Linked DNA regions of Homo sapiens. The protein of the gene in region 5 interacts with the protein of the main gene of each other region in a pairwise test. Each region holds a gene or a part of one and is shown on either strand. Other genes may lie near its edges. The genes, in order: NUMB, GPRASP3, ATXN3, TRIM59, PALS1 and UBQLN1.

Region 1 (3,657 bases), 6.0 Mb from region 5:
ATTCTCTATTTTAAAACAAAACTTCTATCATGCAACAATTTCTAGCGTTGTTCATTCTACCGTAACTTAGTATTTCTGTTTAGTTTTTGTTTTTTGTTTTTTTTTTTTGAGATGGAGTCTTGCTTTGTCACCTAGGCTGCAGTGCAGTGGTGCAATCTTGACTCACTGCAACCTCTGCCTCCTGGGTTCAAGCGATTCTCGTGCCTCAGCCTCCTGAATAACTGGGATTACAAGCACCCGCCACCACAGCCGGCTAATTTTTGTATTTTTAGTAGAGACAGGGTTTCATCATGTTGGCCAGGCTGGTCTCCAACTCCTGACCTCAAGTGATCTGCCCACCTCAACCTCCCAAAGTGCTAGGATTACAGGCGTGAGCCACCGTGCCTGGCCTATTTTTGTTTTATTTTTGAGACGGAGTCTTACTGTCGTCCAGGCTGGAGTGCAGTGGTGCAATCTTGGCTCACTGCAACCTCTGCCTCCGAGTTCAAGCGATTCTCCTGAGTCAGTCTCCCAAGTAGCTGGGATCACAGGCATGCGCCACCACACCTGGCTAACTTTTGCATTTTTAGTAGAGACAGGGTTTCACCATGTTGGCCAGACTGGTCTTGAACTCTTGACCTCAGGTGATCTGCCTACCTCGGCCTCCCAAAGTGCTGGGATTACAGGTGTGAGCCACCATGCCCGGCCAGTATTTCTTTTTTCTTTTTTTTTTGGCCAGAGTCTTGCTCTGTCACCCAGGATGGAGTCAGTGGCACAAATCTCAGCTCACTGCAACCTCTACCTCCTGGGTTCAAGCGATTCTTCTGCCTCAGCCTCCCGAGTAGCTGGGACTACAGGCATGCACCACCACGCCCAGCTAATTTTTTTGTATTTTTAGTAGAGACGGGGTTTCACCATATTGGCCAGGCTGGTCTTGAACTCCTGACCTCGTGATCCGCCTGCCTCGGCCTCCTAAAGTGCTGGGATTACAGGTGTGAACCACCGTGCCTGGCCGGTATTTCTGTTTTTATAATAGTTGAAAGTATACTCCAACTCAGTTTTGTTTTTTTGTTTTGTTCTGTTTTTGGAGACAAGGTCTCACTCTGTCACCCAGGCTGGAGTGTAATGGCACGATGACTCACTGTAGCCTCCAACACCTACGCTCAAGTGTTCTGCTCGCCTCAGCCTCCCAAGGCATGTAGAATGTAGCTAGGACTACATGCATGTGCCACCATGCCTGGCTAATTTTTTCTTTAACTTTGTAAAGATGAGGTCTTGCCATGTAACCCAGGTTAGTTTCCAACTTGTGGTCTCAAGTGATCTTCCTGCCCTGGCCAAAGTGCTGGGATTATAGGGGTGAGCCATCAGGCCCAGCCAACTTCTTTCATTTGTAGTAGTCTCTATGCAAATACATTTTTAATACCATACTCATATATGTTAGCCAACAAATACATTTAAGAACCCTGAAAATACTTCCAATAATTAAAAGTTTCAAATAAAGTTTAGCAACCACTATCACCAGACCATTTTTACCTTCCTTTAATGATCTTTGGTTTCAGCCAATCATTTTGTTCAGTGAGTTGCAACTCCTGGGGTTACATCAAGAGTGTGAACTATTTGAATAAAAGGAGCTGAAAGTAGGCTAGTTTAGGCACTTCCAAGTACTTGTTAAAAATGTAGTAGAAACCGCTTGGCTGAGCAAACCCAGAAAGAGCCCAGCTAACTGAGAATACTCATCATGAAATACATATTTGCTGGACTCACTGTGTCCTTGACAGCCATGAAGCAGTGACAGATCCAGCGACGAGTGGTGCCATCACGGCATATGTAAGAAAAGGCTCTATCAAAGTTCCTGTCTGGGGCACAGAAAGAAACTTTCTCTATCGTCTGGTCAACTATGAGGTCCTAGAAAATACGACACACAAAGAAAGAGAAGACTTATGAGGTTATCTGAGCTTCTCAGAACACAGGATGTTCATTTCATGATGCACAATCCATACATCTGATACAACTAGGCTATGGAATACCTAGATCTGTGTCCAGCAGTTTAAATACTGAGAATTGGACTCAGCAGACATCCCAAGAGGCACTTTGCCCAGATACCTCTCTCAACTACATGTTCTAAAGCATATGCTTGTTGATTCTAGTTTTACATCTCTTTCATGGTAGATTCCACATTCAACAATATATGTAAATCAGTATCTTTAATCCTTTGGATAAAAAAAAAATCCTTTGGGTTTATTCCCAAATATAAGCAAATACATATAATAGTCATGTTTATGCTAACTTCGTTACACAATGAACACTACACACACATACACACAGTTCTGCACCTTGCTTTTTTACATTATATATACCCGATCCAGTGAAGTTACTTCAGATACTGTATTTTTCAGGTGTGGAATTTCCACTCGTTTCTTTTTCTTTTTTTTTTTTTTTTTTTGGACAGTCTCACTCTGTCACCCAGGCTGGAGTGCAGTGGCGCGATCTTGGCTCACTGCAACCTCTGCCTCCCGGGTTCAAGCAATTCTCCTGCCTCAGCCTCCCAAGCAGCTGGGACTACAGGCGTGTGCCACCACGCCCGGCTAATTTTTTTGTATTTTTAGTAGAGACAGGTTTCACTGTGTTAGCCAGGACGGTCTCAATCTCCTGACCTCATGATCCACCTGCCTTGGCCTCCCAAAGTGCTGGGATTACAGGCACGAGCCACCGTGCCCAGCCATTTGTTTCTTTTTCATAGTTTCTATTCTCTGCCAAGATTTCTATCTCTTCATTCAACATGAACATATTTCCTTTCTGTCACTGAGTATAGTTATAATGCCTTCTATACACTGTTTTCATTTCTGTTAAGGTAGCAGTCTACTTCAGTGTACCATTTTCTGTACTAGTTGTGGTGATGCTATAAACACAAAACAATACAATGACTCAAATACAAGAGACATTTATTTCTTGGTCAAATAGTGAAGGCGGGCATTTAAAATCTGTCTGCTAATTCCAACATCTGAGTCATCTTGAAGTTAGGTCTTTATTGATTGTTATTTTGATGAGAATAAGTCAGACTTGTCTGTTTTGTTGTATGCTGAGTAACTGCATTGTAGTCATTGTGAATGTTGTATGTGGAAAGAATGGATTCCGTTACATTCCTTGGAAGTGTCATATTTTTGGTTTTATCAGGTAGCTAATTTGATTATACTCAAATGGAAAACTCTTATCTTTTGAACAGCACCTCAGACATCAGGGCGTTTTTGTTCTTTTTTTGAGACTGTCTTGCTCCGTCATCCAGGCTGGAGTGCAGTGGCGCAATCACTGCTCACTGTAACCTCAACTCCAGGGCTCAAGCATCCTCCCGCCTCAGCCTCCCGAGGAGCTAGGACTACAGGTGCATGTCACCATACGTAGGTAATCAAATATCAGTTTTTATATCCTTAGTTGGGCTATTTGGAGTCTGCCTTGAATCTACATGGCTAAAAGGGTCAGAGATTTGGGCAGAATTTATGAACAGAATTTGGGACTACTCCTTTTTGGCTTACTCATTTCCAGGATTCTCTTTTTACTTTCTTTTTTTGAGATAGTCTTGCTCTGTCGCCCAGGCTGCTGGAGTGCAATGATGCAATCTCAGCTTACTGCAACCTCTGCCTCCTAGGTTCAAGTGACTCTCATGCCTCAGCCTCCCAAGTA
Region 2 (3,657 bases), on a different chromosome or scaffold from region 5:
CTGCTGATGACTCCAAATCTACATCTTACTCATTGAACAAAGTTTTAGGCTCCTACTATTTTCGACACTGCCAGATAAAATCCATCTATTTACCTCAGAATTTTCTCCTGACCTCCAGCCAGATGTAGCCAAATGTCTAATGGACACACGAATTTGGAGGAAGTTAAGAATTGTAACACCTGGCATGGACATGATCCATTGCAAAATTAAACCATTCAAACCAGTCTCTGAGCTTTGAAGGCCCCCCCACCTCAAAATGTCCTTCAGGAAGACTGTAAAGCAGTGTGGTGAGATGGGTTCTGGTGTCAGACAAAACAGCTATGCCACCTTCCTGCTGTGGGAATCTAGGAAAAGGTATTTAACCTCTCTAATTCTCATTGGAGGGTACCCAGAATAATGAGTTCTAATAAAAATATAAGTAACTAACTCACAAGATCACTGTGAGAAGAGGAAAAAAACTTGTAAAATATGGTGCCAACACAGTGTTTGACATAGAATAGGCACTCACAAAACGTTTCCTGCCTTCTCTTTTGTGAGATAACTTTGATGTAAATGAAACAGCCTAACAATTTAAGAGTTATGAATGTAGTAGCAAAATTAAAATTGAACAAATAATACATTTTGTCTGAGATTCTGAGTCATTTCTGTGTTGCGGAACGAGTATCTGATACAGCTGGAACAGGAGAAAAATAGTTTCTCTTACATTAAATAGCCTATAGGAACTCCTGCCTCCTTTATGTAGAGTGCGCACATTTGGCCATGAGCGTGCACGTGCACACACAGAGACACGCACACTCACACACACTCTCTCTCTAGGTACTGTTATCTTTGTGTGTGTGTATGCCTTACTTCTGTAACTAGATTACAAACTCAAGGATATTTTCTTTTTTGCCATTTTAAGCCACAGATACTAATGAACAAGTTAGCTTACTTAAAACGAACTGGTTTGCTATCTTAAGTAAAATGTTAAAAATATGCCAATCTAGACAAGATAAAAATCAAACATTTTCAGCCCAAGGTATAATATTCATTTGATACCCCCAAAATAGTCTAGCTCAAACCTAGAGCCTGTCACAGGTGACTCTGTGTTAAAGATGCAGTGTATAATGTGTACACTGTAATGTACAGCCTGCTAGAGTTTGAAGATGGCTTAAAATGTTCTATCTCTGGCTCATTTTACATTGTTTCAATAATCTCTTTAACTTCCCTGAAAATGGCCATGAGTGTATTATAACTCAAGTGATCAACAACTACAATTGAGCCTTTTCTGATATGCTCCTTTATGTTAATAAATATGGCCACACCACTAACAAGATTGGCTTTTGCCTCTTTCTGGTTAAAGATGAGTTTTAATGCTGCCAATGCCTTCATATTGATCATGTCTCTGGCTGCAGTTGGATTTTCAGACATATTTAAAAGTAGTTTCAAAACAAGATTTCTGGTTTTGCAATTTCCTGAGGACAGCAAATGGAAAAGCTCTGAAAAGTAATTGGCAACAATGTAGTGATGGACAAAATCAGTAGTCAGTTGTCCTAGTATCTTTAATCCAGATTGCTGTCCCGGTGAGTTCAAAGGAAATGACATGGTTTCTTTACACATATGCTTAACATGTAATTCAATTTTGCGTTGTCTTTCATCCCCAGAAGGAGGATTCAGAGTAATTACAGTCTTTTTTCTCATTTCAGGGGAAGGAAAACTGAGCAAGCTTTCAATAAGTGTCACTACACCTACTTCGTTAATAAACTCTTGGGCAAATGGGTGAACATTATGGACACCCATTGCAATCCGTGCTATTTTATGAATAAGAGGATCAGTAGTTGACTTAAGTAAGCTAACAAGTTTTTCAAATTCCTCAGAATCCATATAGCATTCCATTTTGCAAGGACAAGCAAATGGCTTAATCCCATTTACCTCCCTGATCCTGATTTGACGTCTAATCTCATCTATGGTCTGGATGCAGGGGTCAGAATCAAAACGACACTCAGGGATAGGCTGTGAGCATGAGCGAGTGTTCCTAGAAGGGCGGCAAGCTGTTGCCACAGGCAAAGAACAGGCATTTTCTTCAGCGGAGGCCAGAACAATATATGAAGGAGGGCTTGCCTCAGATGGTGCCTGGGATCTAAATCCTAACACAGCTGGAGTTACAGCAGGGGCATTGGGCCAGATAGTTACCTCAGACCAGTCCTTGGGCCTATTTTTTTCATTAATTTCATACACAGGCTGAGGCTTAACTATCCTGCTCACAGGTTTAGGATTAGGGTCAAAACTAGTATCATCTCCTTCCCAAAACCAGTTCCCAATAACATTCTCTTCCTCCTCCTCCTCAGCCCCTGACCTAGGTTTGCAATCGGCCCCAGCCGCAGGTTCCAACTCCTCAGCACAGACCTGGGCACCAATTTCAGGTTTATCATTCTTAGTGCTGAAACTATTACCAGCCTCTTCTCCATTCCAGAACCAGGAATTGATAGTGGCCTCTTCCCCAGCCCAGAACCAGGCATCAGTACCAGCCTCATTTTTACATGTGGAGCTGGTGGACTCATTCCCAGCCTTGGGAGTGAAATCTCCCATGGCTTTGCCCAGAGTCTTAGGCTCTGACAGAGCTCCTTCCTTCGTCTCAGCAACAACCTTGTTCTTAGACACTGCCTTCATCTCTGCTACTGCATCTGTCTTAGACCCTGTCTTGGCTTTTGCTTTGGCCCTGGTCTTGGCTACAGGCCTAACAACACCAGTAGCCTCCCTCTCTGCTCCAGCTTTAGCTTGTATAGCAGCCTTTTTTTCAGTTTTGGCCTGGGCTCTTGTCTTATTCTTAGTCCCAGCCATGGTTGAAGCCCAGTTATATGGCCCTGTCCAGTCTTGGCCTTGGTTCTCAATGTGTCCTAGGTCGAAGTCTTAACACTCTTTCACTGGGTCGGGGAAAAACTTGGTAGCAAGAATTAGAGTCAACTGTCAGTTCTGCAGTCACAAAGTTCTCTTTCCAAACATACAGCCTCTGTCAATGATACAGAGGGCAGAGGCACGCTCGGGCTGGGGGAGAATGATTGTTCCCAAGTGCAGACCTGCTGAAGGTGATGGTCTTCCAACAATCCAAAGCCACCACAGCCACCAGTGGAGATGGACCTGAGGTTGAAGAAAGAAACTGGCTTTGAGTCTTGTCTAACTGTGCTTCTCTATGCAAACAGCCACACAGAAGGACATAGGAGAGTAGAAATGAATTGTGTAGAAGTGGATTAATAAAAAACTCTGCTACTTAATTTTATACCTTGCACACTGCCACTAATGCTCAACAATGTCCTGCCCAAGCACTGTCATTCTTTTACTCTGCATCAAACAGGAACAAAGATGGCAGGTAAGCTTGCTGAGAGTGAGAAAGGCTAAAGGAGTGCCCAGTCTCTTTGGACCCATGCTAGTAGGTCCACCACTAAAATATATACCACTAGACCTCATAGGTGTATTCAGGCAGCACTCACACCAACCTGCACTGATCTAGTGCAATTTTTCCTCCTTCCCTGTTTGCAGTGTTGATATGCCCTATAGTTAACTCATGGGCAGGCCTATGGACAAAAATACAGATGGGATTGGAGTTCTGAGTATTTGGTTGACAGACCTACACTCTAATCTCTAAACCCAATTTCTGCCTTTCCAAATCTAGGGCTTTGG
Region 3 (3,500 bases), about 25 Mb from region 5:
ACCACAATGTGTTAGTACACAAACTCTAAAATGGCTAAAATGTTGGAGATTAGAGATACAGAAACTGTTGTATACTACTGATGAGAGGATAAATTGGTATAACCAATAATAACTAATAATTATGTAATGCATCCACTAAAGCTTAATATATACATCTCCTATGATCTAGCAATTCCATTACTAGGTACATAATGTAAACAACAGCAATGCAAACATACATTCATCAAAAGACATGTATAAGAATGTTCACAAAAGCAGTATTTTTGTGCCACAAATAGCATTACTATTTGTAGTAATACAAAATAGCATTACAGATAGCATTACTATTTGTAATGGACCCCAAACTGGAAACGACCCAAATGGATAGCTGGGATCACAGTAGAATGGAAATTGTGTTTACTCACAAAAGAATACTAGATAACAATGAGGATGAATTAACTACAACAGTAGTTAATTAACAATAATTAACAGTAGTTAATTCTGGAACAGTATGGATAAATTTCTCAAACAATGGTAAACTAAAGAGGACAGAATCGAAAGGGTATATACACTGTACACTTCCAGTCACAAAAGCTCAAAATCAGGCAAAACTCATTTATGATGTCAGAATTCAGCATAGTGGTTATATTTGGTGGGAATGCAGTGGAGAGACAGTACCTAGAAAAGGGAATAATGGGAGGTTATAGGATGCAGGTAAATCTTTTGTTACTTGCTGTTTACACATGTTCACTGTGTGAAAATTCGCTGAGCTGTACTCTTAATGATTTGTGTGCTCCTCTCTGTATTGTATCTAATTTTTAAAAAATTCAAACAGTAAGAAAAAAGCCTTTGCTAACACAAATTTCCTGTCTTGCTGTCAGTTTGGAGTTTACAAACTATGGTCACCATACTTAATACCATATATAGCAATAGTGACATCCAAATATTTGATTAAAATTCTCTCTATAAAAAATAGCTTTAAATTATGAAAAATAAGTACTTGAAATCAAACTTCATCAAAGAAAAACTGTATTGCTACAGGAAATATCAAGTTCTGTACTTCTAATATGATTTAATGGAAGGAAAGGACAAACTGTTCAGTACAAATTTAAAAATCACTTAAGGCTAGGCACAGTGGTTCATACTATAATCTCAACTGTTTGAGGGGCTGAGGTGGGAGGATCACTTGAGCCCAGGAGTTCAAGGCTACACGGAGCTAAGATTGTGCCACTGTATTCTGGCCCAGGTGACAGAGCAACATCATGTCTCTCAAAAAGACACAAAATAAATAAAAATAAAAACAAAAATAAACATAACTTAAGTCATAGGACGGATCAAATTCCACATGGACCAAAAGAATTGTACAATGACAATGAGCCCACGTAAGATTATGCATTTTCCTGCCTTGCCCTTATCTCAAACTATCCCCAGCCACCTCTCTCATCAAGCTTTAATCAAAGCAGAAGTTCACTTTGCCATAATCAAAGTTCAGCGGTATTGAAATCTCATGATTTGGCTGGGCATGGTGGCTCATGGCTGTAATTCCAGCACTTTGGGAGGCCAAGGCAGGTTGATCACTTGAGATCAGGAGTTCGAGACCAGCCTGGCCAACATGGTGAAACCCCGCCTCTACTAAAAATATAAGAATTAGCCAGGTGTGGTGGCAGGCGCCTGTAGTCCCAGGTGCTCAGGAGGCTAAGGCAGGAGAATCACCTGAACCCAGGAGGCGGAGGTTGCAGTGAGCTGAGATTGCACCACTGCACTCCAGCCTGGGTGACAGAGTGAGACTCTGCCTCAAAAAATAAAAAATAGGCTGGGCGTGGTAGCTCACGCCTGTAATCCCCGCACTTTGGGAGGCTGAGGCAGGTGGATCACGAGGTCAAGAGATCAAGACCATCCTGGCCAACATGGTGAAACCTCGTCTCTACTAAAAATAAGAAAATTAGCTGGGCATGGTGGCACATGCCTATAGTCCCAGCTACTCGGGAGGCTGAGGCAGGAGAATCTCTTGAACTCAGGAGACGGAGGTTGCAGTGAGCTGAGTTCGCGCCACTGCACTCCAGCCTGGTGACAAAGTGAGACTCTGAAGAAAGTTCGTGCCACTGCACTCCAGCCTGGTGACAGAGTGAGACTCCAAAGAAAGAAAAGAAAGAAAGAAAAGAAAGAAGGAAGGAAGGAAGGAAAGAAAGAAAGAAAAGGAAGAAAGGAAGAAAGGAGGGAGGGAGGGAATAAATAAATTAAAAACAAAAAAAAAAATAAAAGAAATTCTATGATTTTAGGCCCAGACTTCATTGTGTTGGGCTCAGAGAATTAGCAAACTGCAGTTCTACAAAGATAATGTATAAAATCACAAAAGAGAACTGCTACCAAATCATTTACCCCCAACCTCCCCAGGTTTTCAAGACCAACCTGAAACTAGTTCAAATTACCAGAGACACTACTAACTACAACACAAATCAGGTATAAACCTAAGGTGCTCTCGGGAATGGGCTATCTGGGGACAAGCTGTCAATCTAGCAGCATTTCTCACCTCCTCTTAGTGCTCTCCGAGCCCTTACTATGAGGTTCAGCAAACACAAGCACCTGAGTAATGGCAATGGCCAGTACTTCTACAGCACTATCTGCCAGGGAGCCTTCTCTACACTCTAACTCTCAGGTTATGTCTATGTTATTATCCCCACACTACAGAGGAGGAAACTAGAGGACAGGGATACTAAGTAACTTGCTCAGGATCACACAGGTAGTAAAAGGCAGAGCTGAGACTCAAACCCAGGCAGAGGTTTCAAAACCTGTGCTATTAGCACTTCAAGTCATTTATACAGAATTTGGCTTCTCCTAAAGCTCAAATGTCCTAAAGATGGCTAAAATCCAGCAATCACAAAAGGGCATAATGAATGCCACAGAGTCAATGCTCAGCATCTTTTCAATCTTTTCAATAATTTTATGTACAACCCCAGCAAGTTTAGATATTATTACCAGTTTGCATTACATTAAAAGCACCAATACAAATGGCACAGTAACTGCACCAAGAAACATCAGCAAGAGGATTAAAAAAAAAAAAAAAAACAAAGCAGGCACCAGAACTAAAACAAACAACAACAAAAATCCAGTAGTGGTCATAAAGTTAGTACAAAGGTTTAAGTTAGGGGTTGGCAAACTCTAGCCCATGGGCCAAATTCAACCTGCCCCAGTAGCTAAGAATGCACTTTACATTTTTACATGGTTGGGAAAAACATGCACAAATAAGAATGTGTGACAGAGACTACAGCTGGCCTGCAAAGCCTTAAAATATTTACAGAAAACTTGTTTACTTTAGATAAACAGCACCATATATATCTCAGAAACTCAAAGCCATCTCTTTATCCATTCAAATATATACATTTTTTTCTTTTGAGACAGGATCTTGCTCTGTCCCCTAGGCTGGAGTGCAGTGGTGCGATCATGGCTCACTACAGCCTCGACCTCCCAGACTCATGCAATCCTCCCACCTCAGCCTCCCAAGTCTACAGGCATGTGCTAAC
Region 4 (2,392 bases), on a different chromosome or scaffold from region 5:
CAAAAGCAATAGTTTTATTTGGAGTGAATGGTGATAAGCATTTAGGGCTCTTAAATCTATCTCAAACACAGGTATGTTTGATCAAAAGATCTTTAAGCCATGCCTTATCACTTTAAGACTTTGTTGCTTGATTTTGAAACCTTTCTATCATCCTTATTCACCCATTCAAAAGCTTCAAGCCACATCAAAATAAAGGTATATGTTCTTTCAGGATTTTGCTATATATATAAAGAACTGTAAAGCCAATTAACTGCAGTATATAATAATGGTAAAAGACAATATTGGTACAAGAATGTTTAAATGTCACAGCAACATTATGTCAACCATCATAAAGCCAATAAAAATGGGATAGTGTATTACTTTTCAAATTGTTACTAGATTCTGTTTCCCAAAGATTTGACTATTTCAGATATAACTTTGACATATCATTGCTAACCAAAAGAAGCAACAAATATAAACATTTGTTTATATTAGTTGCAGCACTAATAAAGCTTAGTTTGCTCTTTATCCATGCTACCCCATTTTTTGTTTAGCAATGTACAGAATAAGCCCATTTAAACAATTCAGGTTGACATTTTCAATGGGAAACTATTTTCCACACAAATTCCTTCAACAAATAGAAAATGTGACACAGTATATTCTTTACCTTATGCAGACTGTTAGATAAACTTTGGTAAACAGATAGAGAGGCTTCAGAAAACCATATTAAAGTGATTTCACTTAAAAAGGTTATGATGTGTTGGTTGAAAAAGAGTATCGACATCAGTATTACTGAAATTAATGTAACTACAACAATGTTTAAAATTTTTAAAAATTCAACTTCCTTTTCATCCTTACCAGGCCAGGAACATGACATCCTTTTTGGAGAAATTTTCATTTTGGGAATGAGAACGTTCTTAATTTGTCCAATTTCTGTTCTGCTCCATTCTTCTTTCAATATTTTGCTTACTCGAGGATAAATTTCAACGGGTTGAACCTCAGGAAGTGGTCTTTGTTTCAAGATCTGTACATGCTGGCGTACATCATCAACTTTTTCAAGAAATTTAAGTGGAGACTCTTCTTGTAAAGATATTGTCAGTGCCATTAATTCAAGCTGCTGCTCTCGTATTTCCTTCATTCTTTCAATTTGTGGAGTATATTCTTGATTAATTAGATTGCCAACATCACAGAGAGCCGTTAGGAAACTTTTTTTTTTCTGTTCTAATGTATCATTAAGCTCCTTAAAATACTGGAGAACAGCTTCCTTATCGCCTTGGATCATTTTCTCAGAATGAGATTTTTGTTCTTTCAGCTTTTCAATAAGATGGGTAAGATCTGTCCAGTGTGTGTCAGTCAACTGTTCAAGCAGTTTTTGAGGAGTGTCCTTTTCTTTCAAATAGGCACTTTGAAGGTCATCTATAGGATGACCATGATGTTGACCTATGGTAAGGCAATGACCACAAACTAATTTTTTATCTAATAGACAGTAAACATTTAATGGTTGCCTGTAATGTTCAGGGCAGGTGACAATATCTGGATGGTCTTCTTGCTGGTACTTTTCAATAATAGCCCTTAGTGCAAAATTAACAGGTAAAGATTCAATGCCAGTTGGAGCAATTTCAGTAATACTTCTGCAATTAGGGCACTTGAGTGGAATTCGTAAAGGTCTCCATATATAAAAGTTACCAGATGCCTGAAGAATGTTTTCCAAACAATTTCTACAAAATGTATGAGAGCATGGCAGTACACGAGGATCTTCAAAAATACTATAACATATGGGACAAGTTAACTCTTCCTCAAAATTGTGCATTTCCTGTCAAGAGAAAAATGTATTTTAAGTTTACATAGAGACACCTGTACATATTATTTAACATTCTAGGCATTAACCTCCAAATTGTTACCATACTGCTTGTCATTTAAAAGAGAACAAGGTATTTTTAAAATGAAGTTTTCTGAGTAATTCATTTCCTAGTATATATAGTGAATAACTGATCACAATTAAGAGTTTATTCCTTAGGGACCAAAATCATCCCAAACAAAGCAATTATCATTAATTTGTAGTAAAATGCTTCAAATTTAAGTTATTTAAATTTGTTGCTATGTGATATGGTTTGGCTGTGTCTCCACCCAAATCTCATCTTGAATTGTAGCTCCCATAATTCCCACATGTTGTGGGAGGGACTCAGCGGTAGATAACTTTAGTCATGGGGGCAGTTCCCCCATACTGTTCTTGTAGTATCACGAGATCTGATGGTTTTGTAAGAGGAAACCCCTTTTGCTTCACTCATTCTCTTTTCTTGTCTGCCGCCATGTGAGACGTGCCTTTCACCTTCTGCCATGATTGTGAGGTCTCCCCAGCCATGTGGAACTGTGAGTCCATTAAACCTCTTTTTCCTTATAAATTACCCAGTCT
Region 5 (3,657 bases):
GCATTAGTTATTGATATCATTTCTATATTAAATGGTAAGACCTCCCCCACACTGGGGTCTCCAGTCAGAACCACAGAGGGACAGGAAATGGAATTGGCCAGAGTGGCTGTACAACTAGGTGTACAGCAAGGCTTTTTTCCATATTCTTTTGTGGAGGTCAGCAACAACTCAGTTTTCACTTTAAGGACTATGTTGAATATCAGCACATCCTCATCACTAGGATTTAGAAAAGTTTAGGACATTTCTATCTACCATTGCTGATGAGGAAGGGGAGAATGATTGATAGACTTCACTGACCTTGAAATATTTATCATCTCAGACTTCCTAAAAGTATGGCATGGCATCACCTCTGCCTTGATACAAGATCTGCTTGTTAAAGCCATGTTCCTGAATCTTGACAGCACATGGCCCTAGTGCAGGCCTAATGTCTACAGCAGGCACAAGAGCCACTCACTGACACTACCTACACCCTCACTCTAACTTAACATGAACTGCCAATAGTTTAGCTCTTGGAGTTGAAAACAGTTGTCAGTTACAATAAGCAGGATCACAAAACTCCATTGTCAACCATAGACTACACTTCATTCCTGAGACGTAAACTGGAAAACTGAAAAGATTAAGTAAGTGCTAAGTATATTCCTTAGTTTTTAATGCTAAAAATCGGTGTGACCTGTGAAATTTCCTGGCTCTAAACTGGAGTATTTCAGATCTGAAGAGACAGTAGTGTATGGCATTCCTTCCCTCAACCCAAGAATGTTATTTTCTTCCTAAGGAACATTATCTTGAAAATATTTCCACATAAAACACTCTCCAGCCAACTTAATAGGCCATGCAAATTTGAACAGAAAAAGGCGACATATAAACTGTCTACATTTGTTCAAATAAAATTATGTAGAAGAAAAAAAATCAATCAAATATGTACATGACACAAATTACTCCTTAAACATAATTGCTTATGTTAAATTAAATGATGTCAGTATTATTCCAGTGTTTAGCTCTGGGTATAGGAAATGCTGTAGCTAAAGTCACCATAAAAATAAAATCAAGGCATTCACATTTGAGGTTGTTTGTTACACATCACACTATCCTAAAGGCTTGAAAAGACTGCAAATTAAGTTTCCATGCCAATTATATACGTTGAATTTTAAAGCTACAGCTATAGAGACAGTACGAAAATCCTATTAGCTTAAATGTTTCTTTTATGATTTACCAAGCTGTTGCATTCTCGTCATAAGAGGCAGACCTTGTTAGGTTAAAAACCTATTTCTATATATTTAATACCTTTTTCTCTCCAATATTCTTTTCCTAAAATGTTCAAATGACTTTCAGGTCTTCCCTTCCTTTTGATCTTAAAGTCAACTGTCATAATATTTCCCAAGGACATATATAATTTTATTCTAATGCTAAACAAGTGTTTTCAATGACCATTTGTTGATCTATTAAATATTAATATACAGTACAGCAGCTATATTCATCAACAGAATTCCAGTTTATTACCTATATATACGTAGCACAGTCATAGGATACTGTGCTCATACATAAAAATGCAAAAACTGTCAAATGTGCTATCCTCCCATGTATACAAAAAACTATTAGCATCATGAGGAAGAAACTTTTTAAGTCAATACAGATTATAATGAACACCTGCCATTCATAAAAATGTAACATACATTCTATTATACTATGCTGATGAGGGAAGGGAAGCTAAGTGAGTAAATCAGTTGAGACGACTTAAGAAAAAAATTCAGGAAATCATAATTTAAAAAAGATCAGCATATTTTGTATACCTTTAAGTAGATTAGAGTGTGTTGAGTGTAGAGTCTGATCCACAAAGTCTGAGCAAAAAAACTGGTGCTTCTAATGGAATGTTTTTTGTTTTTTTAAGAATCAAAAGACATATAAATGAATTCAAGCCTAACAAAGTAGCTTCAACCCAAAGTGGCACCATTTTGTTTTTTATTTTTCCTTTTTAGGAAAGTATCTCTGATGACTAAATTAGTTTCCTAAGCAAATACTGCCTTGCCCAGTGCATAGAAGCACAGTCCCTCTGCTCAATATTCCCAATGAAGTCATTTAAGTGTTAATGATTTAACACTTAAGAATAATCACATCAATATTTGTGTGAGACATGGACGCTTGTGTATACAAGTTTTTCACAGAGATACAACTAAGCAGAAAGGGTTTAGGTGAAAACAAAAGGTTTTAACAGGACAAAATGGAATGCTCTGTTGAAAGCTTCCATTTAGAATCCCAAAATGAGGCAAGAACCGCTAAAGCCATGTATAGAGAATAAAGGATGCCATGCACAAACTGCCTAAGGGAACTGTCGTCTCACTAATTCAAGAGATCTAAGAACAGATCTACAGCTTATACTGCTGCCTTCCATCTTATCCTCAATCTTGCTGCAGTGTCGGGCAGTCCTCCTATTGGCAGTTTTTGCCAGATCAAGTCCAACATGCCACAGAATGGATGTTTCTTTCACCTCAGCCAAGTGGATGGTACCCACTGAGGTTCAGTATCAAGTTTGTTAATTAACCTAAGCAATTCCTGATAGGCTTTATCAAGATCGGAATTCACAATTGCCGTATCAAAGTAGTGGCCATTGTTCTGCTCCATCTCTCTTGTCTTCTCAATGATTTCTCTCAACTCTTCAGGCTGCAAACAGAAGATAAAAACTGTGAGATAATTCCTTTCCTAACCAAATAATATAGGATGAGTCAGAGATGGCCAAAGAACAAGGAGCGACCTTCATAGCTTTCCTTCTGTCTCTCCCAACCTCAGGAGCTCCTTTCCAACCCTGTCACGGCCACAATGGTTACCTTTGCTTTGGCATCTTCACGACTCATATTATGAACCATCTGGGACTCAATATATCCTGTTTTATACCACTATTTAGGTTTTCACATATTTTGTCTTATCTCACCAACAAAACTACAAGCTTCAAGAACACACACTGTTTCCCTACAAACATTTGTTTTCAAACATTCTAGACACTATAACCTCTTCCTAATAGTAACATCTGTAATATGGAGTGAACCTTTCTGGTTGGAGCAAGGACCTAAAATGCCATTTACTTTTGGCTCTAGTAAAGAGCCCTTGCCCTATACTATCTGCTGCAGAGAGTTAAAAGTATCCTACCAGAGTTTGGGAAACTATATAGAGTAGCCTACTTTAAAATACTGACTGAAGGAAAGGGCCATTTTACAAAGATAAGCAGGCAGCAAGGCTATGTGCAAAACTTATCCTGAACCCTCTAATTATCAGGCACATGGGTTCAAGAAAGTGAAACTCACCTCAAATCACCCCTGCCAATGAAGACAACTAACTTAAACTCAAGACAAAATGTCTCAGATATAAAAGTCACACATCAATACTATATTGGACCCATAGTACAAAACAATTTATATCATTCAACTGTTTGAACTTCTGTAACAGTAAGAAAACATATTAAAAATATGACAACTCTGGCTTGTCCTGAGGCAGTTTCTTGCATGACTCTCATTCTGGAATGTTGTACATCTGAATATGGCACACAGAATCCTTTGTTCCCAGCAGGGAATCTACTTCACCACTGTAACTGAACACACTGACATTTTTGCTAAAACTTATGTCTACCGTAAGCTCAAGATTATTGGAAGAACATTCTAGGACTCCACA
Region 6 (3,657 bases), on a different chromosome or scaffold from region 5:
TCATTACCCAAGATAGCTAACATCTTGTCTTACTCACTTGTTGGAGGAAAGTTGGGAGCTGTTGTCTCATTTGTTCTTGAAGCTGAGGATTTCCAGCAAATAGGGGATTATTCAGCATCATCTATGGGGCAAGTGTTCAAACAATTTTAACTGGAAATATCTGAAACAAGTAATGTACCTTGTTTTATTCTATCTTCCCCCAAGTGCCTCAGCTGGCACTTAAAAGGGAGGAAGGTAGAACATAAATAAAAAAAGGAAAAGGGAAGATACTGTCCACAAGAGGGATCTCCAGAAGAACAAAAACAAAAAAATGAGGCATATTCTCTCTCAATGAGAATGGTGGTTATGATAATGACATGCAATATCCTAAAAAATAAAAGCAATCATTTTCTTAGGCTTTTCCTTGAACAAACGTGAATATATGCCATTGAAAGAAAAATGGGAGTAACTGGCATTCATGAAGATATATTTTCTACTACACTGGCAGAATAAACATAAACATCAATACATGAACTATGTAACATGGCTTGCTTAGAAACCTCAACACACAAGTGGCAGGCACAGAGAAAATCTAGATCTGAAAAGGACCACTACATCTACCTGCCTACTACAAAACAGCTAATATTAGGTCCAAAAAAATAACACCGCAAAACAGCAACCAACTTGCCAGAGAAATGGAGCTGCTAGGTGAAAATCAGTCAGGCCTAGCACCAACAGTCCTCTGGGAAAAGTATTAAAATGATTTAAGACCTAAAAGATGTAAATCCATTTGAGAACACCAAGATTAGCATCTGGATTTCACCTCACTACTACCAGAGATGAGAAAAGTGGCATCTCCTAAACTTCAAATAAACGTTAAGAATTTAAAAATCAGGATCATTATTAGTATGATGTCATATACCTGAAAATAAGATTAAAATACACAAGGAGCATAACCAGAGCTAATAAATTCTTGTAGCTTCAAAAGACACATTTTATATCATTTTCCCCAGGCGGAGTAAAAAGTCAACTAACAAGGATTTACTGATAGCCTATTTATCTATCCAAAGTCTGGGGAGGAAATGATCCTTGCCCTCAAGAAGTTAACCGTATTTAAGAGCAATGTAAATGCTGGTAGAGAAAATTCGCCCCAATTCTTGCAAAGTGATCTTTTAGTTAATTTCAATACAATAACAAAAGCAGATGTCAGACAACCTTTCAGGAACATACAGTATTTATTTCAAAGTGACCAGTAAGTTCACAGTAAGTAAACTCATACAGGCTTAAGGTCAACAAACCTGCTTCTTTATTGGTTCCAAATACTTATCATCAACATATTAACGAGGTTATCACACATATCTTTTGGAATTCACTTCATTTCATCTTAAAAAAGCATGTCATCTTAAACGTATCCTTTCACAGATAATCATCTTATTAGATACTTCTTATAACTTACCTGAGTGCTTATACCACAAGTTTTTACACTCAAGAGTCTTTTTAAATATTTAAAAATCAAAAGAATAGAAAAACCACAAATTTTAATCTGCAGATAACAAGAACATTGTAAAAGTTTCTAAATTATCTGTAATAAAAGACATGCCAATCTAGTACTAGCAACATTTTGTTTTAGAGTAAAAAAATAGTATGTGAGTGCTCAAGTCACTTTACTAAAGTAAGATTATTACAAAATTGCTACGCATGTGCTTGTTAAAGTCAAATTTTAAAAGCAAGATGCACATTCAGTATTAGCCAAATACACACTTAAAATGGCTTATTATGGTAAATTGAAGCATTTAATACTAACAACTCAGTCTGATAAGTTTCATATGCATAAATCAATCTTCCATAAAATGTACCTCCAATATACAGAATCACAGACACAAAAATTCTTCTTAAAATTTGTTATTTCCAATTCCACAAATTTGGTGAGGGCATAAGTTATTACTGAGAATTATACACAAAGATACCTGAATCAATATAGTTTTAGAATTTAGAAAATAAAAACCATTCATTTGACTTAAAGCTTTTAAAATTTAAGGGATGAGATTAACTATAAAGTCTTCCAAATTCCTGACACACTACAGAAGCCATTTTTAACGAACAGCAAATATAAACTACAGATTATCAAGGTTTATTTCACATTCTCCGTGGTTTTTCAAGCCCTGTGGTATGGAACCTAGATAGTACCTAGGCAACTTGAGGGAGAAAGGGTTATCGGACGCAATTATCTCAAAATCTCTAAGGATGAGGCCCCAACCATCGGTACTGTCTATAAAGCTTCCCAAGTGATCCTGAGTGTTCAGCCAGCATTAAGATCCCCAATTTTCTTAGCTGTGGTCTCTTTAGAAACAAATTAGAAAAAGGAATACATTAATAAGGGACCTGTATACGATTTTCAGCAGGGGAATCAATAGTTGAAAGAAGGAGAACATTGTTCTGACAAATTCCCGTCTTTAATAAATGCTATTTTACAACTGCCATTCTGAGCATGACTATTATAATCTGAGTGATCTACTAAATAAAAGTATTTCAAATGTATTAACATTGCTCTTAATTGCTTTCAAGATTTACATTTCATTAAGTAGTTTATCTTCAAAAGAGTGGGCATTCCAGAACTCTGTACTTGTCTCCTAACTCAACATATGTAGAAACAAACTAAACCTGCACTTCTTTCTAGTCAATGAATGGCAGAGATAAAGTTGTTTTAATTACATATGAAGTATTAATTTACTGCAAAGAAACACACGGTCTAAAAAATTGGAGACACAGTTTACTTATTTTTCTAGTGTATTAAGATATCATACACAACACAAATGTGCCAAAATCACAATTACAAGATTAGGTTATTTTAATTCACACTGCACAGTCTTTTTCAATACAATTACAAACTCACCTGTGCAGCAAGGTCAGGATTCTGGCTTAGTGACTGCATCATGCTTCTCATGTAGGGGGCAGACAACATGTTTTGCATCAGTTGTGGGTTTTCAGTTATTTGTTGCAACAAGCTCTGCATTCCTGGTGTGTTGAACATACTAGCTGAAAGTTTGTTTTTAAAAAAGACATATTAAGGAAAAATACTTAAACAAAAGTTAAAGCTTTAAAATATAATATGCACTGTGTTTAATTTCACCAAGTACAAATGATTATACATATTATGTATCAACTGAACTACGAAAGAACTTTAAAACTAAAACATCTCTAAAAGTACATGCCCAACATATACCAGGAAAAGAGGACTGATGAGTTTAAACATTCTGCATTTACAGTAAAATCTTGTCTAATGAAGAGCTAGCTTCTGAAGTCAACTTAAGGCAAAAATTACGTATGGTCAAAATTACTGCTGAAAAATTCCATAAAGTGAAAAGGACTGAGCCAACTTTTCCTCCAAGACTGCAAAGAATTAATTAGAATCATATTCGGCACTTAATATTGCCCACCCTTATGAAAGAAGTAAGCCTTCATGCCCAAGGCAACAAAAGATGTAATGCCTCCACCCATTTTCACTGTGTACTGCCACTCACTGAGTAAAATGGTAGGCACATTTAACATTTGAAACCATAGAGCACAGTGACTCCAAGCAGTATCAGGAGCCTGATTACGTGGGTTCAAATCTAATCTAACCCATGTGATCTTGGGCAAGTTATCTAGCGTCTTCATACTTCAGGTTCCCCATCTGTA

What was found.
Region 1: the proteins of PALS1 (region 5) and NUMB interact in a two-hybrid assay, tested with the Homo sapiens proteins (one large-scale study listed by BioGRID).
Region 2: the proteins of PALS1 (region 5) and GPRASP3 interact in binary tests that used the Homo sapiens proteins (3 or more experiments, as listed by UniProt).
Region 3: the proteins of PALS1 (region 5) and ATXN3 interact in binary tests that used the Homo sapiens proteins (3 or more experiments, as listed by UniProt).
Region 4: the proteins of PALS1 (region 5) and TRIM59 interact in a two-hybrid assay, tested with the Homo sapiens proteins (one large-scale study listed by BioGRID).
Region 6: the proteins of PALS1 (region 5) and UBQLN1 interact in binary tests that used the Homo sapiens proteins (3 or more experiments, as listed by UniProt).

The regions. Positions count from the first base shown.
Region 1 is NC_000014.9:73,290,991-73,294,647, forward strand, and holds part of NUMB (protein numb homolog), read right to left. Parts: intron 1,885-3,657; coding exon 1,744-1,884; intron 1-1,743. UniProt on the Homo sapiens protein: Regulates clathrin-mediated receptor endocytosis. Plays a role in the process of neurogenesis.
Region 2 is NC_000023.11:102,748,159-102,751,815, reverse strand, and holds part of GPRASP3 (G protein-coupled receptor associated sorting protein 3), read right to left. Parts: intron 3,118-3,657; 5' UTR 2,821-3,117; coding exon 1,177-2,820; 3' UTR 1-1,176. UniProt on the Homo sapiens protein: Survival and differentiation promoting protein that plays a role in the regulation of neurosynaptogenesis. Induces phosphatase PP2A activity which results in APP dephosphorylation and inhibits BACE1-mediated processing of APP.
Region 3 is NC_000014.9:92,100,083-92,103,582, forward strand, and holds part of ATXN3 (ataxin-3 reference isoform), read right to left. Parts: intron 1-3,500. UniProt on the Homo sapiens protein: Deubiquitinating enzyme involved in protein homeostasis maintenance, transcription, cytoskeleton regulation, myogenesis and degradation of misfolded chaperone substrates.
Region 4 is NC_000003.12:160,437,395-160,439,786, forward strand, and holds part of TRIM59 (tripartite motif-containing protein 59), read right to left. Parts: intron 1,793-2,392; 5' UTR 1,790-1,792; coding exon 578-1,789; 3' UTR 1-577. UniProt on the Homo sapiens protein: E3 ubiquitin ligase involved in different processes such as development and immune response. Serves as a negative regulator for innate immune signaling pathways by suppressing RLR-induced activation of IRF3/7 and NF-kappa-B via interaction with adapter ECSIT.
Region 5 is NC_000014.9:67,331,778-67,335,434, reverse strand, and holds part of PALS1 (protein PALS1), read right to left. Parts: intron 2,656-3,657; coding exon 2,479-2,655; 3' UTR 1-2,478. UniProt on the Homo sapiens protein: Plays a role in tight junction biogenesis and in the establishment of cell polarity in epithelial cells.
Region 6 is NC_000009.12:83,666,313-83,669,969, forward strand, and holds part of UBQLN1 (ubiquilin-1), read right to left. Parts: intron 3,016-3,657; coding exon 2,873-3,015; intron 2,320-2,872; coding exon of another isoform or gene 2,218-2,319; exon of another isoform or gene 1,196-2,217; intron 122-1,195; coding exon 38-121; intron 1-37. UniProt on the Homo sapiens protein: Plays an important role in the regulation of different protein degradation mechanisms and pathways including ubiquitin-proteasome system (UPS), autophagy and endoplasmic reticulum-associated protein degradation (ERAD) pathway.